Regions from separate parts of the Homo sapiens genome. Here region 2 is linked to region 1. The links come from fine-mapping of genetic effects on gene expression. Tissue or cell type: tibial nerve. Region 1 holds a variant in brackets; the other region holds the start of a gene. All regions are shown on one strand. Distances are between the middles of the regions.

What was found. PIP is the estimated chance that this variant, and not a neighbour inherited with it, causes the effect.
Region 2: NEPRO-AS1 starts here. The variant in region 1 is fine-mapped to the expression of NEPRO-AS1 in tibial nerve (GTEx, PIP above 0.99). The same link has a PIP of 0.9 or more in visceral fat.

The regions. Positions count from the first base shown.
Region 1 is chr3:113,086,798-113,091,946 of GRCh38, forward strand. The region is part of intron 1 of NEPRO-AS1 (NEPRO antisense RNA 1); the gene reads left to right. The region is part of intron 1 of LOLI1 (lncRNA oncogene in liver cancer 1); the gene reads right to left. Among named protein-coding and RNA genes, the nearest start is that of LOLI1, 15 kb to the right of the region's middle. The variant C/T (reference allele first, on the strand shown) is at 2,439.
Region 2 is chr3:113,017,182-113,022,330 of GRCh38, forward strand. It overlaps NEPRO-AS1 (NEPRO antisense RNA 1), which reads left to right and starts at 2,337. Exons shown (of 3, transcript NR_186663.1): 1 at 2,337-2,525. RMP64 (ribonuclease MRP subunit p64) reads right to left here and starts at 2,490. Exons shown (of 9, transcript NM_015412.4): 1 at 2,361-2,490; 2 at 267-421. The coding sequence starts at 2,466. RefSeq lists an enhancer at 1,939-2,008 and a silencer at 2,169-2,278.

The sequences.
Region 1 (5,149 bases):
AAAAGAGGGCCTTTGGGTTATGCAAGGGAAAGGGAAGGTGGGGCGAGGTGGGGGCTGGGGGACATTTGAGGTGGGAGGGGTAGGGGGAAGGAGGAGAATAGCACAATAATGGGAAAAAGGAGGCTAGCTTCTGAGGTCTCATTTCTCACAATGAGTCCCATGTGGTTCTCTTTATCTCAGCCTTTCAGCAGTCAATAGAGGGAGCCTTTTTATTTTCAACTCTAACTATACAGCCACGCTACTCCCCCAACACACACACACACACACACACACACACACCCCTACCAGTGTGGGACAGTGAGCAAGACATTGGAAATGTGTGAAAAATTATTTCCCCTGCACAGGTTTGCTGGATTTTCTATCCTCCTGCCAGACCCGTACTTATGGGACATTCACTCCTCCACCACTGCTCTCTGCCTCTCTTGCCCCAGCTTCGCCCCCTAGACTTGATTCCCTCCTCCTCTATTATACACCCCTCCCCCTCTCCTCCGTGGATGCCTCAGAAACTCCAGAGAGGTTGAAGGGAGAGGAGGTTCTTGACTCTTTAGAAAGTCATGAGTCATATGATGACAGGTAAAGCAGAGATGGATGATGGAGTGATGTTGATTTGCAACCCATAAAAAAGCAAAAATAAAAGATCAAAGCAAACCCCAGCTTGAACTTTAGACTGTTTTAATGCATAGAAAAGAACAAACATATTTTTTGTGTGTGGTGGACTTCTCTGAAATGTTAAGTCCCCAATTGGACAAATCCCTTTCAATTTGTTCCTAAGGCTATGACTGAAGCAGCCACAGGCTCTGAATTTACGCAGCTTGATAGAAAATAATTCGTCTATTTTTCAAACAATATTGTTATATATTCTCATAGGGTGCCTGAGTTTGAATAGGCACAGCGTTCTTAACCAGGGGTGGAAGCTTTTAGAAACAGATTCCAGGCCTCATCTCCCCAAGATTCTGCTTCAGCAGCTGTGAATGGGGCAGTGTGTGTGTGTGTGTGTGTGTGTGTGTGTGTGTGTGTGTGTCAGAGAAAGAGAGAGACAGAGATTGATCTTGATGTACAGTGCCATTTGAAAATCTCAAAACTAAGTAAGTTGTTCCCCTTCAGCTACATCAGGGGAGTATTCATCAAATAACAGTCACTAGTTGTGCTGGGAAAATAGTTGATTAATTGAGCCAAACCTATCTCTGCTACCAAGCATTGTAGCTGGCTGGAAAAAAAGAAAGGAAAAAATAATCATGTCCATCATCAAGAAATGAAGATAAGGGGGAAGGTAAGAATAAATGAAAATAACAATAACCTCAAGTAATTGTTTAGTACCAGGCATTTTTTTCTACAAGAACGATTACCCCATTGGAAGCGGGAATGAGACTCAGTTGTCTTAAGCAACTTGCTCAAGGTCACACTCCCAATAAATGGCAGAGCCAGGATTCCTTCCTAGGCTTGAATGATCTGTGCAGCATGCTCTGAACTAGGCGGAGACCCCAGGAATGGGAATAGGAGTGAGACAGCAATCCAGAAACAGACTCTCCCATGGCAATAGGAAGGCTCCCGAGGGTTGCTCATGCACTCAACATCAATGAGCTGTGGGGCAGCTCCTGGCTATTGGCTTCTCATCAAGGACTCCAAACCTCTCCTCACCTCTTAAAAATCTTCTTGTCTCTTCCTCCTGATCCAGCTTGCTCTGCTAAGCAAAGTACCCCACACCAGGCATAGAAAGAAAATGGATATTGCCTTCATATTTTCTCTGAGCAGGGAGATGTATAGCTTTTAGGTCTCTCACATGATAAGAAAATCACAGTTGCCCTCTTTTTGGCTCCATTTCCAGTCTCTTGAAGGTGCAGCTGTGTGGCTTGGCCATGAGGATCGGAGAGGATATAAAGAGGGCAGGAGAGGGGACGACTCCCATTTTGCCACCCTGGCAGCTCTCAACCGGCTCTGCTCCAGCCAACTCTTCACAGTACTTAAAGTCCTTTTTCAACGCCACGAAGTGATGCTCTCACCGGGTTCAGATGAGCTCATCTCCTCTCTAACTACACTAAAGTGCCTCGAGGGCTGGAACACTGCCTCATGCTTCTCCATCCCTGACATGCTCAAGCCCAATGCTGATACAGTGCTCAGTAAATTATTGTCGTTTGGTTGATTTGCAACAAGTGCTTTTTAAATTGGAATGCTCAGGGTTGAAATAGTCCCTCAGTTGTTCCAGATCACCATTTTTTTTTTTTTTTTTTTAAGACGGAGTCTTGCTCTGTCGCCCAGGCTGGAGTGCAGTGGCGCGATCTCCGCTCACTGCAAGCTCTGCCTCCCGGGTTCACGCCATTCTCCTGCCTCAGCCTCCTGAGTAGCTGGGACTACAGGCACCCGCCACCGCGCCTGGCTAATTTTTTTTGGATTTTTAGTAGAGACGGGGTTTCACCGTGGTCTCGATCTCCTGACCTCGC[C/T]GGATCACCATTCTTAATTATCCTCCTCTTGCTGGTGTGCTACAGTTTCTGGATTCCCCCAGTCTAGATATATTAACCTCATGTGGCCTCACTGGACAGCCTCTTTGAGGCTGCCTTCATCAACACCTGTTACTCTGTTGCCCACTTCATTTTCCCCAGTCTGTTGTGTTGGCTCGACATCCCTGAGTCTTGCCCACTGTCTGCTGTCTTATTCCTGTGTTTGTTCTGACTTGACAAATTACTCTCATCTCAACTACTGTGTAGCAATACTTTTTATTCAACTTTTACCAATTTCCTAATACCATGGTCAGTGCAAATATTCTCCATTCTTTGGCTTTACCTCAAGTTTCCATCCTATTTTTTTTCTCTTTCCTAAAGAGAAGTCCATACATTCTAACTCTGTTATGACTTGCTTGCTCCTTAATCTCTTGTCATTTGGTTTCCACTCTTCATGCTGTGTTGTTCCCACTGGGAAAGGCACCATAGACTTGAAGAGTCTGTCCTTGATCTTGTCTTGCATGGTTTCTCTGCAGCCTTTGGTGCTGTGGACCACTGCCTGGTCCTGACACTCCTTCTTGCTTTTGCTGCCTTAATGCTCCATGTGTCTGTTTCTTCTGCTACTGCTATTTCTCCATCCAGTCCTTTCTGAGATTCAGTCTCTGCTTGGTTTTCCTTAGAGGCAATTTTCACTCCCATGACTTCAATTATGGTCACCTCTATGCCAGGTCACACTTCCAGTTGTCTACTGGATTTTTCTACTTGTCCATCCTACTATTATTAAAACTTGAGATATCTCAAACTGGATTTATTCCCCCTTCCAAAACTGCTTATTTTCTTCTACTAACTTCAAGGCTGAAGGTTTCTGCCCATCCATTGATTGTAATCTTCCATCAGTCATTAAAGTACATGATTCCTTCAGATCTATTCTCTATCCCATCTATTTAGTTTCTGCCACCACCCTAATTCTAACCCTTTTGTCACATGTATAAACTATTGAAATTAATCTGTTAAAATACTTTTGCAAAAATGTACTCTTCTACTCAAAACATCCAGTAGTTCCCCATTATTTACAGAATCAAATCCAACCTTCTTCACCTAAGGTTCAAGACCTTCCTTAATCTAATCCCAACTTTGTTGTTCCCACCATTTCTTCCTCTATTATATTTGCCTTAAAGAAATAAATCAGTTTAGTGAAACTGTTCTGCTCATAAGATCCCAAACACTTTATATGCACACAGTTGTTCATGTCCTTTCACCTACCTGCTACATCCATCCCTCATATTCCCATCTCTTCTGGCCTAACCTTCCTTCAAACCACCTTTCAAAAAAAGCTTCTTTGACCATCTCAATCTAAATTAACCTCTTCCTCCCATAAACTCCCTTTGACTCCATTAAGCTACTGACAGTTTATGAAATTATGTAAATTCCAGTTTATATGTTAAATGATTGCTTAATTTTTCTTACATTATCTTTCTAACTAGATTGTTTGCTTCTTCTGGATTTGATCCCCCAGCTGGCACCTGGCTCAGACTTAATTAATGCTGCCTGTTCTTGTCTGAGTTTCCATGAACTTATAAATACAAGTTGTTTTTGTAAATTGAGTCCCAAACCCATATGTTTATAAGAGCAAACACCTTGAGCAGGATTAACTATGTGCAGGTATGGATATTCTGTTGCATTTTTTTCTAAATAAAATCTTATTTATTGGCTACCTATTTGCCTCGGTCCGATTGTGCTGTTGTAACAGAATAGCGCAGACTGGGTAATTTGTAACGAACATATATTTATTGGCTCACAGTTCCAGAGGTTGGGAAGTCCAATGTTCAGGGATCTGGAGAGGGCTTTCTTTTTGCATCATAGCATGGCAGAAGACATCACATGGCGAAGGCAAAGAGAAAGATGAGGACCAAACTTGCCCTTTTATAACATTACTCCATGCATGAGGGCGGAGCCCTCATGGCCTAGTCACCCTTTAAAGGTCCCATCTGTTAATACTGTTAATATGGCAATTAAATTTCAATGGGAGTTTTGGAGGGAACAAACATTCAAATCAGAGCACTAGTACAAACACAGGTGTATGAGCCTCACCTTACACATTTTGCCTTTTCTTTAGCAGATCAGGAAAGGAGAAGCAAAGTAGACAGCAAGCTGTGTTCTCTTCCAAGCAACCTCATTCATTATACAGTGGCTAATTTCCTTCTTCATGCCAAAGTAACTGCACCGTTTAAAGTGAAAAAAAGGAAGAAAGAGAGAGACAAGAAAAAGAAGGAGGAAAGAAAGAAAGAAAGAGGAAGGAAGGAAGGAAAGAGAAAGGAAGGAAGGAGAAAGAGAAAGAAAGAAAAGAGAAAAAGAAAGAGAAGGAGGGAGAGGGAGAGAGAGAGAAAGAGGAAAGAAAGAATGAATGAAAGAAAGAAGGAGGGGGAGAGAAAGAAAGGAAAGAAAGAAGGAAGAAGAAAGAAGGAAAGAAAGAAAAGAGAAAGAAAGAAAGAGGGAAAAGAGAGAGGGAGGGAGGAAGGAAGGAACAAAAGAAGGAAGGAAAGATACAAAAGAGAAGAAAAAAGTAAGTTTGTATAATAGATCTGATTCTCTCCTCCTCTATTATACACATTCAAGAGTGTGGTGTGGAAAAAAATAGAAATTTACACTTGACAAACAGCTTTGCTATCTCTAGTAATGAATTCATTTACTGTTTCCAAGCACCTATGACACTC
Region 2 (5,149 bases), 70 kb before region 1:
AGAAAATGTTTACTTGCCTATTAGAAACAAGACTGGGAAAGAATCTAAACATACTTCTTTTCTAACAAAAATTACTTTTTGAAATGCTGAAATGCTTTTAGGAAAAAAAAAGAAAGTGCACATGTAACTGTGGGCTATAGGCCTATAAAACACAAGTAATTTACTGAGATTTCCACGAGATTTCCATAAATAGCAATATAGTAAGTGGCAGTGTGATCTACATTTTCAAGTGAACAGGTTGGGTCTCACCTACCGGGCTTCCTCACCTGTTTGAGGGCCAAATGGGGTTTGTGGCGGCCCATTCTGTTGTGATTGCTGTAAAGGACTGCACATAACACATCTGTTTCTGCATCTAAGGTTTGGCTCTTCAGCGACAGTATGACGAGATGGCATTCTTTAATTACAGCTGCAATGCAAAGGTCTGAAGCAGAGACATCTAATAAGATTTAGTATGTATTTCTACAGTAAGTATATTATATTAAAAACACACTAAAAAAAGCATCTTTCCTTATTTGTTTTAAAGGAATCAAAAACTAATGTAATCAGTCTCAACTGTAAGAACGTAAGGATTCTAAGTATAAGAGAAGTTGGAAAATGGTAACAGATGATATAAAGTCCAGGAAATCATTAAGAGAACATCTGTAAAACAAGAAGCTGTATCTTTGCATTGCATTTTATCATGGTTTAATAATCTTTCATATGAATACTTTGCTGTCAGTCATTTGGTGTACACTTACGCCTCATGTGTACACTTAACCCCCACCTTGAAGGTAGGGCACATGTCACAACATGTGTAATAACTCTCTAACTCCCCATGTCGCTATGCCCGAAAGCAAGACAGAATGAATAAATTCACAGTCTTCAAAATCAAGGCTTCTGTGTTTGGATATCACTTTATGAGAGACACAAACATATTCAGAAAAGAAAAACCACCACAGTAACTGGAAATCGTATTATTTGATGAACACCGGGTGCTCATCAGCAGATGCTTCCTAGTCTGAAAATCTGTAGAAGTCCCTAAGATGTAGTTCATGTGTTATTTATGGCTCTAAAGGCAGCACTAGCATTCTAAATGGAAGTAAAGGCTGGTTGCTACCTAACAAGAATTTTCTTACTGTCCCAACAACTACCTGAAGACAGAATGGGCTGCCTCGGGGATGGGTAGTGAGTTGGTGAATTTCCCAGGCCTAATAGGAGTTGTTAAAGAATTTTTGAATAGAGAAAGAGGGAAGATTAATCTGTAAAGTGTGTAGGAAGGATAGATGGGATAATCTGTAAAGTGTGTAGGATGGATATATGGGAAAGGGGATGTGATGATCTAAGTCAAGCTTGTCCAACCCGCCTTATTTTGTTGTTCTGTTCTGTTTTGTTTTAGGCTTTTTGCAGCTTAAAGCCATGGTTTTTAGTTTGTCTCTAGTGAAAAGAGGGATGAGGAAAGGGCTTTACCAGCCCAACCGGAAACAAAGAACCCATGACTGTATTCTCTCCCTTGGGCCCCGGAGCTACGTATTTAATATTCATAACAGCTTCCATTTGAGTGTTCATTTACCATGCCAGGCAGTGTTCCAAATGCTTTCTCTACATTATCAACTCTTTCATCCCCCCAAACAGCCCTATGAGGAAGGTGCTTTTATCTCCATTTGAAAGTGAGATCAGTGAGGCACAGAAAGGTTCAATGACTCCTTCAAGCTCCAGCAAAGGGTAGAGCTAGTATTCAAACCCAAACAACCTGGCTCCTGCGCCAGGCTCCTACCTACTATATGCCCTTCACCCTAACAAATACCACCCATTTAGGTGGCAAAACACCGTCGTTTACAGCGCACTGTCTCCTAAATTACATCATTAGATATTCCCAACGCCCCTGTGAGGAGTAGGAGGACTAACTCCATTTCACAGATAAGCAGATAGAGGTCCGAAAAGATTGCAGTTTGAGTCCCAGTGCTTAGGTGACGTCCACCGCTCCTCGGGTACAGGAAAAAGAAGGAAAGGGGAAATGGACGGAAGGGTAAACAAGACTCCGAAGACCCGGGTGAGCAAGGGTTCCCAGGCAGCACTGTTCCCCGGCACCAGCTGAGTCCACCTCTCTCCGCCCCCTCAGCGCACGGCTGAGCCTTGGTCTTTCATCTCTCCAGCCAAGCCCTGGGTTAGCACAGCTGGTTCAATGAAGGAATGCGAAGCCAGAGGCCCTACAAGCTACACCAGCAAAGTGCTGGGACCGCTCGACCCCTACGTGCCCCGCGCCCCTTCCCAGCGTCCCCCGGGCCGGGAAGTCCCGGTACCACCCCCGCCCACATGCGCCGGCTGGGCCTGGCGGCCTCCCCCGGAAACGTTCCCCCATCCTCGCCCGGCGCCTCACTCACCAAGGGCCGCGCCGGGGTTCTGCACTGTCACTGCGCTGCGGTTCCCCGCCTTAGGGATTCTCACACGGTTCCACGGCTCCAGGCCCGGCGGCACCGCAGCCATCATGCGAGGCGGGGGGACTTACGAAAGGCGGAGCTACGCGAGAGCACGTCCAGCGACCGGAGGTGGGGCGATGGGACCCAGTCCGGGCCGGAAGGGAGCAGGGGGTGGGGCTCGGGCGGGGCCAGGAGCCCGGCGGGAGGCTGCCTTCATCGAGTAAACGCGTGGGACTGGGAAGGACCCAGTCATCTGTATATTGGTTACCAACACGTGGCCGCGTAGAATCATGGGGGAAAAAAGGCCCCATCCCAATACTAACCAACAGAATCTCTGAGAATGCGATGAGGAATCTGCGTTTTGTTTAAACTTAGCGCAGGGGATTCGGAAGCACAACCAAGTTTGGAACTGTTAAATACTTCTAGGCATTTTACAAATATGGAAAATGAGGCCCAGAATTGAGTTGGTGCTTTTACCCCCAACTCTGCCTCAGACATTAGGGGAAAAAGGAAGAAATGAAATGAAGAGGTTTGTGCAAGGTGTGGAATTTGTAGCGAAGAAGCAGTGATTTGCTTTGAGTGGTAAAGGAAGGCTCCTTTATGTCTTGAACCACAGCAAAACCGAGATCACATCAAAGAAACTTGGAAGACACCTGTCAGTCATTCCCACTTTTGTCAGTCTCCAAGACAAGATCATATTCCAAGCTCTAGTGATCCTTACCTCATTAATATCTTTCTAATAATTCATTTATCCTCAGCCATGCTAATGCCCCCTTAAGTTCTTAACACTCCCACAGTAACGTATTAGAAAAACAGTGAGTTTTGGAAACAGACTGCCAAGGTTCTAGTTCTAGCTTTGCTGTTTACTAGCTCGGTGATCTCAGGAAATTTACTTACCTCCTCCTCCAGACCTTAGTATCCCTGTGGGTAAAATGAAGATGATAATAATAGTATCAATCTCACAGACTTGTAAAATGCCAAGGCACTCCTGGCATACAAACAATGAACATTTACCATAGTTAATATTGTTGATGTTATTACTACTATTTCATGCAAGCAGTCTTACTTTATTGAAACACTTTCCATGCTCTTTCTGTGCGCCTTTACACATCTACCTACTCTACCTGGGTCATCCTCGGAAACACAATCTCCTTTCCTCAGCTCTGGGGTCGTCACTTGGGGTAATTCTTCCTAAACACCCCGTCCTCACTCCATAACTTGATACAGAGGCCCCTTTAATGTGTTACCACAGTGCCCTATGTTGGCCTATGTATTAGTTTTCTATTGCTGCTGTAACCAATTACGACAAACCTAATGGCTTGAAATAAGTAGAAGTTATTTTACATTTCTGGAGGTCAGAAGTCCAAAATTAATTTCAATGGACTGAAGTTGGCAGGGCTGGTTCCTTCCGGAATCTCTAGGGAAGAATTCATTTCCTTTCCTTTTCCAGCTTCTAGAGGCTGCCTTCATTCCTTGGCTCATTTCACTATCCTCCACCTTCATTGTCAGCATGACATTTTTCAGTCTCCTCCTCTTCCTCTGTCTCTCTCACCCTCCTGCCTGCCTCCCTCTTAAAAACACCCTTGTGATTACATTGAGCCCATCAAGATAATCAGGATAGTCACTCCATCTCAGAATCTTTAACTTAATCACATCTGTTTTAGAACTCCAAATTCAGGCTCATGTACCCGATGGGCAGCTGATGCCAAATATTGAGATACTGGTGCTTGGAGACAGAGAAATATTTATTCGATTTGACCAAAGTTAGAGGGCAAGAGAGCAAGATCTCTCAGATCCACAGTAACAAAAAAGAAGCAGGGAGTTTTTATGGAGCTAGAGAGTAATGGAGAGGGAGTTTCAAGGAATCCAAGGGAAAAGTCTGTGTTTCTTCCATTTCAGGTAACACCTTGTGCAGCCGTATGTACATGGCAGCTGGTTGCAATGTCCTTCCAGGAATTCATTCCTTCTGCAAACTATTCTTATGACCCTGAAGTTATCTCCTTCTGCTTGACAAAGAAACAGTACATCAGCAGTTTATAATTACATTGTGGGAACAAGGAATACTGGGCAAAAAGCGAGTGGTTAACATGTACAAGCAAGCAAGGGCCTGTTCAAAATTTTCATTATTTCATGCACACACACACACACACACACACACAAAAATGCTGGGGTGCTGAAATCTCAAGCAGCTGAAATCTCAAGGTTATATAGCTACAAAATCCCTTCTCAGTGCAAGGTAACATATTTACAGATTATGGAAATTAGCATGTGAACATCTTTGGGTGGGAGGTGGAGGGATCTTTATTCAGCCTACCACAGCCTCTCTCACAGAATTTACCTCGCTTTATTGTATTTCTTTGTTTACTTTCATGTCTATTTCTCCAATGGCATATGAACCTACTGAAAGCGAGAACTACCATTGACATAGCTAACTGGTCTTTCTATCTCAATGCTTAGTTCAGAGCCTGGCATATAGTAGGGCCTCAGTAGATATTTACTGGCTGTATATGAGGTTGGATGATGCTTGAATAGAGTCTTTTGAAGGATGAATAGGAACTCCCCAGGCAGTTAAAGGAAAAAGGATATTCCTACAGAGAGGTTTTAAGCAGCATGGGTTTGAAGAATCACTAGTCCTGAGTTGGTACTGCTGGGACGTGATTTGTGCTGAGGGGTGGAGCTGGGAATAGTGGTGTCAGTCAGATCATGGGAAGAATTTGGCTTTTTACCTGAAGACCAGTAGTTCAGAAACCTGG